Homo sapiens: one gene and its partner. The protein of the gene in region 1 purifies or fractionates together with the protein of each later gene. This does not show direct contact. Each region holds a gene or a part of one and is shown in the gene's direction. Other genes may lie near its edges.

What was found.
Region 2: the proteins of ZNF398 (region 1) and FERMT3 purify together in Homo sapiens (affinity purification with mass spectrometry; one large-scale study listed by BioGRID and IntAct). This does not show direct contact.

What each region holds. Positions count from the first base shown.
Region 1 is NC_000007.14:149,153,912-149,157,727, forward strand, and holds part of ZNF398 (zinc finger protein 398), read left to right. Parts: intron 1-33; coding exon 34-429; intron 430-3,816. UniProt on the Homo sapiens protein: Functions as a transcriptional activator.
Region 2 is NC_000011.10:64,212,928-64,216,743, forward strand, and holds part of FERMT3 (fermitin family homolog 3 short isoform), read left to right. Parts: intron 1-3,816. UniProt on the Homo sapiens protein: Plays a central role in cell adhesion in hematopoietic cells. Acts by activating the integrin beta-1-3 (ITGB1, ITGB2 and ITGB3). Required for integrin-mediated platelet adhesion and leukocyte adhesion to endothelial cells.

The sequences.
Region 1 (3,816 bases):
CAATGTCTTGTTCCATCTTTCCACTGCATGCAGACATCTGAATGGGACTCCGAGTGCCTTACATCCCTGCAGCCCCTTCCTCTTCCTACACCCCCAGCAGCAAATGAGGCACACCTGCAGACAGCAGCTATCTCTCTGTGGACAGTGGTGGCCGCCGTGCAGGCTATAGAGAGGAAGGTGGAGATCCACAGCCGGCGACTCCTACACCTGGAAGGTCGGACAGGGACAGCAGAGAAGAAACTAGCCAGCTGTGAAAAGACAGTTACCGAGCTTGGGAACCAGCTGGAGGGCAAGTGGGCCGTGCTGGGAACCCTGCTGCAGGAGTACGGGCTGCTGCAGAGGCGGCTGGAGAACTTGGAGAACCTGCTGCGCAACAGGAACTTCTGGATCCTGCGGCTCCCTCCAGGTATTAAGGGAGATATCCCAAAGGTAATACCTTCATTTCTAGATGTAAAGTGGTACCACTAGAACTTACATTAGTAGTAGTCTTGGTCATTCAGTTACTTAGATTTTTTATTTCCTTTTAAAGTTTCTTAAAATATCTCAGTCTGAAAGAATCATGAAGGTGTTTTATGTTTGTCTATTTGGGAAACATTTTATGTTCAATTTAGTACCCATTTAGAGTGCCAAGATTCAGATTGGAAACCTCTTGCTGGACCAAAGTTGGCTATCTGGTAGATGGATTTTTTTTCTCTTTTGGTTTCTCCTACCCATTACCCATGAGCCGCTTCTTTCTTCGTTAACTTGTGTGCCAGATTCTTGGGGAGGAGACTACATAAATATTCTTTTAAATCAGTCAATTTGAGGCTGGGCGCGGTGGCTCATCCCAGCACTTTGGGAGGCTGAGATGGGCAGATACCTGAGGTCAGGAGTTTGAGACCATCCTGGCCAACGTGAGGAAACCCTGTCTCTACTAAAAATACAAAAATTAGCCGGGTGTGGTAGCACATGCCTATAATCCTAGCCACTCGGGAGGCTGAGGCTGGAGAATAGCTTGAACCCAGGAGTTGGAGGTTGCAGTGAGTCGAGATCATGCCACTGCATGCCAGGCTGGGCAACAAGAGCAAAACTCCTTCTAAAAAAAAAAAAAAAAGGCCTGGCGAGATGACTCACACCTGTAATCCCAGCATTTTGGGAGGCTGAGGCAGGTGGATCTCCTGAGGTCAGGAGTTCAAGACCAGCCTGGCCAACATGGTGAAACCCCGTCTCTACTTAAAATACAAAAATTGGCCAGGTGTGGTGGCTCACACCTGTAAACCCAGCACTTTGGGAGGCCGAGAAAGGCAGATCACAAGTTCAGGAGTTCAAGACTGGCCTGGCCAACAAGGCGAAACCCCATCTCTATTAAACATACAAAAATTAGCTGGGCTTGGTGGTGGGCGCCTTTAATCCCAGCTACTTGGGAAGCTGAGGCAGGAGAATCGCTTGAACCCGGGAGACAGAGGTTGCAGTGAGCTGAGATTGCGCCACTGCACTCCAGCCTGGGCAACAGAGTGAGACTCCGTCTCCAACAACGACAAAAAAGAAGAATCACCTGGTAGGCTTTTAAAATTTTGGTGAGCATCACATCCAGATTCTGACCTAATAGGTCCAGGATGGAGCTTAAGCATGAATAATTTTTTAAAAACCTCCATAGATGATTCTAATATATGACTAGGGTTGTGAATCACTGATGTGTAGGGCATTTAAGACCAAGGAAAGGAATTTGGATTTTTAACTAAGGTGTAATGAGGAGAAATTGGAGGGTTTGAAGCAGAGGAATTATATTTGGTTATATATATATATATATATATATATTTTTTTTTTTTTTTTTTTTTTAATTTTTTTTTTTTTGAGATGGAGTCTCACTCTGTTGCCCAGGCTGGAGTGCAGTGGCGCCATCTCGGCTCACTGCAAGCTCTGCCTCCCGGGTTCACGCCATTCTCCTGCCTCAGCCTCCTGAGTAGCTGGGACTACAGGCGTCCGTCACCATGCCCAGCTAATTTTTTGTATTTTTAGTAGAGACGGGGTTTCACCATGTTAGCCAGGATGGTCTTGATCTCCTGACCTCGTGATCCGCTCGCCTTGGCCTCCCAAAGTGCTGGGATTATAGGCATGAGCCACCGCGCCCGGCCAGTTTTATATATTGAAAGAATCCCTTTGGCTGCTTTGTGGAGGATGGATCGTAGGGGAAGAACTGAAGAAGGGAGGAAATACTAAGGCAGGGAGGGATGCAAGTGGCTTGGATGAGGGTAGCAGTTGTAGAGATGGAGAGAAGTGGACAGATGCAGGATGTTTGGTGGTAGAACTGACAATAAGAGTTACTGATGGGAAGGCAGGGTGCATTGGCTCACGCCTGTAATCCCACCACTTTGGGAGGTTGAGGCGGGCGGATCATGAGGTCAGGAGTTTGAGACCAGCCTGGCCAACATGATGAAACCCCGTCTCTACTAAAAATACAAAAAAATTAGCTGAGCGTGGTGGTGGGCACCTGTAATCCCAGCTACTTGGGAGGCTGAGGCAGGAGAATCGCTTGAAGTTGAGGGGGAGGTTGCAGTGAGCCGAGATCACGCCACTGCACTCCAGACCAGGCAACAGGGCGAGACTCCATCTCAAAAAAAAAAAAAAAAAAAAAAAGAGTTACTGATGGGAATTAGGAAATAAGGCATTAAGAACAGTAATTGTAGGCCAGGCGCAGTGGCTCACGCCTGTAATCCCAGCACTTTGGGAGGCCAAGGCAGGTGGATCACCTGAGGTGAGGAGTTTGAGACCAGCCTGACCAACATGGAGAAACCCCATCTCTACTAAATATACAAAAAAATTAGCTGGGCCTGGTGGCGCATACCCGTAATCCCAGCTACTTGGGAGGCTGAGGCAGGAGAATCGCTTGAACCCAGAAGGCGGAGATTGCGGTGAGGGGAGATTGTACCACTGAACTCCAGCCTGGGCAACAAGAGCGAAACTCCATTTCAAAAAAAAAAAAAAGAATAATTATAAATTTACTGTGTGGTAATTTAGTTAGAACTTACTATTCTAAGTGTTCTACTTATTTTAAGGCATATGAGTCTCAGAAGAACCCAACTTGCCCGAGGTCACATAGTTAATATAAATAACAAAGTTGTGTTTTAACTAGGTTGGCTCCAGAGCAGATGCTCTTAACCACGTTAGGTTTACTGTCTCAGGCTTTCGGCTTGAAGAACTGGGTAGATGGTGTTGGAGTTTCCTTGAGGGGAATACCTTGGGAAAGTGTGGCCTTGGGGGTGGGAGGAAATTAGGAGTTCCCCTTTGACAATGTTAGGTTTGAAATGCCTGTGATACTTTCAGGAGAGACGTTAAAAGTGGACTAAGAAAGTCCAGGACAGGGCGGGGCACGGTGGCTAATGCCTGTAATCCCAGCACTTTGGGAGGCCGAGGCGGGCGGATCACGAGGTCAGGAGATCGCGACCATCCTAGCTAACACGGCGAAACCCCGTCTCTACTAAAAAATATATAAAATTAGCCGGGCGTGGTGGCGAGCGTCTGTAGTCCCAGCTACTCGGGAGGCTGAGGCAGGAGAATGGCATGAACCCGGGAGGCGGAGCTTGCAGTGAGCCAAGATGGCGCCACTGCACTCCAGCCTGGGCGACAGAGACTCCGTCTCAAAAAAAAAAAAAGAAAATCCAGGACCAGCAGGGCGCGGTGGCTCACGCCTGTAATCCCAGCACTTTGGGAGGCCAAGGCAGGCGTATCACGAGGTCAAGAGATCGAGACCATTGTGGCCAACATGGTGAAATCCCGTCTCTACTAAAAGTACAAAAATTAGCTGGGCGTGGTGGCGCTCGCCTGTAGTCCCAGCTA
Region 2 (3,816 bases), on another chromosome or scaffold:
CTGTTGTCCAGACTGGAGGGCAGTAGTGTTATCCCGGCTAACTGCAGCCTGGACCTCCCAGGGTCATGTGATCCTTAAGCCTCAGCTCCCCAAGTAGCTGGGACGATAGGCGTGTACTATACCTGGCTAATTTTTTTTTTTTTTTTGACATGGAGTCTTGCTCTGTTGCCCAAGCTAGAGTGCAGTGGTGCAATCTCGGCTCACTGCAACCTCTTCCTCCTGGGTTCAAGCAATTCTCCTGGGATTACAGGTGTGGGCCTGGCTAATTTTTGTATTTTTTTAGTAGAGATGGAGTTTCACCATATTGGTCAGGCTGGTCTCGAACTCCTGACCTCAGGTGATCCACCTGCCTCAGCCTCCCAAAGTGCTGGGGTTATAGGAGTGTATTTTTTTAGTAGAGATGGAGTTTCACCATATTGGTCAGGCTGGTCTCGAACTCCTGACCTCAGGTGATCCACCCGCCTCAGCCTCCCAAATTGCTGGGGTAATAGGAGTGTATTTTTTTAGTAGAGATGGAGTTTCACCATATTGGTCAGGCTGGTCTCGAACTCCTGACCTCAGGTGATCCACCCGCCTCAGCCTCCCAAAGTGCTGGGGTTATAGGAGCGAGCCACTGCGCCTGGCCTAATTTTTTTTTTTTTTTTTTTGAGATGGAGTCTTGCTCTTGTTGCCCAGGCTGGAGTGCAATGACGTGATCTCAGGTCATCACAACCTCCGCCTCCTGGGTTCAAGCAGTTCTCCTGCCTCAGCCTCCCGAGTAGCTGGGATTACAGGCGTTGAGCCACCATGCCCAGCTAATTTTGTATTTTTAGTAGAGATGGACGGGGTTTCTCCATGTTGGTCAGACTGGTCTCGAACTCCTGACCTCAGGTGATTTGCCCACTTTGGCCTCCCAAAGTGCTGGGATTACAGGCGTGAGCCACGGCGTCGGGCCAGCTGTGCCTTTTTATTCTAGTGTTTTCTTCTCTATGACATATTTCCACTTCTTTGTTTTGCCATTTCACACATTATCTATTGACTTTGTAAGAAGGTTTCACTGTCTTACATTCTCTTCCCTGCCCACACAATACACACATTTCCTTGCCTCTTTCTAAGTGAGTAGTGTCTGTAGTCTTTGGTTAAAACAATGTGATATGGCTGTAAATAGTAACACATATAAATAGTGTTCCTAGTTAAGCCACAGAGTAACTATGATTATTTTTTCCCTTTTTGCTCAAATGGTTTTGAAGTTCATAATTGCCTTTTTTTTTTTTTTTTTTGAGATGAGTTTTGCTCTTGTTGCCCAGGCTGGAGTACAATGGCACAATCTCAGCTCACTGCAACCTCCACCTCGCGGATTCAAGCGATCTCCTGCTTCAGCCTCCCAAGTAGCTGGGACTGCAGGCACGCGCCACCATGCCCAGCTAACTGTATTTATTTATCTATTTTTGTTGTTGAGATGGAGTCTCGCTCTTGTTGCCCAGGCTAGAGTGCAATGGTGTGATCTTGGCTCACTGCAACCTCCGCCTCCCGGATTCAAGCGATTCTCCTGCCTCAGCCTCCCTAGTAGCTGGGATTACAGGCGCCCACCACCACGCCTGGCTAATTTTTTGTATTTTTAGTAGAGATGGGGTTTCACCATGTTGGTCAGGCTGGTCTCAAACTCCTGCCCTCAGGCGATCCACCTGCCTCAACCTCCCAATATGCTGGGATTACAGGCGTGAGCCACCATGCCTGGCCTACACTTTTCTTTCTTATTTTTCGGTTCTTTTTCTTTCTGTGTCCTACTCTCCGGAGACCTCTTCAACTTATCTTCTAAAATATCTATTGAATTTTTAATTTCTGTAACTATATTTTTAAGTTCCAAGAGCTCTTGTTTTTTGAGTGTTCTTTTATAGGGTTTTTTTTTTTTTGAGAGGGAGTTTCATTCTTGTTGCCCAGGCTGGAGTGCAATGGCGTGATCTCGGCCCACTGCAACCTCTGCCTCCTGGGTTCACGCGATTCTCCTGCCTCAGCCTCCCACATAGCTGGGATTACAGATGCCCACCGCCACCATGCCCAGCTAATTTCTTCTTGTATTTTGAGTAGAGATGGGATTTCACCATGTTGGCCAAGCTGGTCTCGAACTCCTGACCTCAGGTGATCCACCTGCCTTGGCCTCCCAAAGTGCTGGGATTACAGGCATGAGCCACCACGCCCGGCTCAGCTTATTTTTAACAAATGTGTATGGTTGTGCAACCATCACCACAATCCAGTTTTAGAACATTTCCACTGCCCCAGACAAGCACTGATTGCACGATGCCCATTTGCAGTCATTCCTCCTCCCACACCCCGACCACCACTGATCTGCTTTCCATGTGGCTTTAATTTACATTTCCCTGATGACTAATAAAGTTGAGTCCCTTTTCATAAGGCTATTAGCCATCTGGATATCCTGCTTTGTGAGGTTTCTGTTCAAACATTTTGACAATTGTCATATTGAGTCGTTTGTCTTTTTCTTATTGATTTGTAGGAGTTCTTTATATATTCTGGATATGAGCACTTTGCCAGATAAATACATTGTGAATATATTTTCCCCCTCTGTGCTTTGCCTTTTAATTGTCTGAATGGTTTCTTTTCATAAACAGCAGCTCTTTATTTTAATAGAACCAAATTTATATTTTTATCTTTCTTTTTTTATTTTTAGAGATGGGGTCTCGCTCTGTCACCCAGACTAGAGTGCAGTGGTGCGATCATAGCTCACTGCAACCTTGAACTCCTGGGCTCAAGCAATCTTCCTGCCTTAGCTTCCTGAGTGGCTGGGGCTACAGGCATGTGCCACAAGCCTGGCTAATTCTTTAAAAATTGTTTAGAGATGGAGTTTTGCTACGTTGCCCAGATTGGGTCTCAAGTTATCCTCCCGCTTCGGCTTCCTGAGAAGTTGGGATTTTTTTTTTTTTTTTAGACGGAGTCTCACTCTGTCACACTCAGGCTGGAGTGCAGTGGTACGATCTCGGCTTACTGCAACCTCCGCCTCCCGGGTTCAAGAGATTCCCCTGCCTCAGCCTCCTGAGTAGCTGGGATTATAGGCATCTGCCACCACACCCAACTAATTTTTGTATTTTTAGTAAAGACAGGATTTCACTATGTTGGTCAGGCTGGTCTCACACTCCTGACCTCAAATGATCCGCCCGCCTCGGCCTCCCAAAGTGCTAGGATTACACGCGTGAGCCACTGCGCCCAGTTACATTCCTTTAAAAAAAGAATATTCTGGTCTTGATTTATGAGTGCAGTGCTTTAGCTCTGTAAGGATTTTTTTTTTTTTTTTTGAGATGGAGTCTTCTTCTGTCACCCAGGCTGGAGTGCAATGGCAAGATCTCGGCTCACTGCAACCTCTGCCCCCCTGGTTCAAGCCATTCTCCTGCCTCAGCCTTCCGAGCAGCTGGGATTACAGGCATGCACCACCACGCCTGGCCTAATTATTTTTGTATTTTTAGTAGAGACGGGGTTTCACCACATTGGCCAGGCTGGTCTCAAACTCCTGACCTCGTGATCTGCCCGCTTCAGCCTCCCAAAGTGCTGGGATTACAGGCGTGAGCCACCGGGCCCAGCCTCTATAAGGATTTTTTCGCCGGGCGCGGTGGCTCACGCCTGTAATCCCAGCACTTTGGGAGGCCAAGGAGGGCGGACCATGAGGTCAGGAGATCGAGACCATCCTGGCTAACACGGTGAAACCCTGTCTCTACTAAAAATACAAAAAATTAGCCGGGCGTGGTGGTGGGCGCCTGTAGTCCCAGCTACTTGGGAGGCTGAGGCAAGAGAATGGCGTGAACCTGGGAGGCGGAGCTTGCAGTGAGC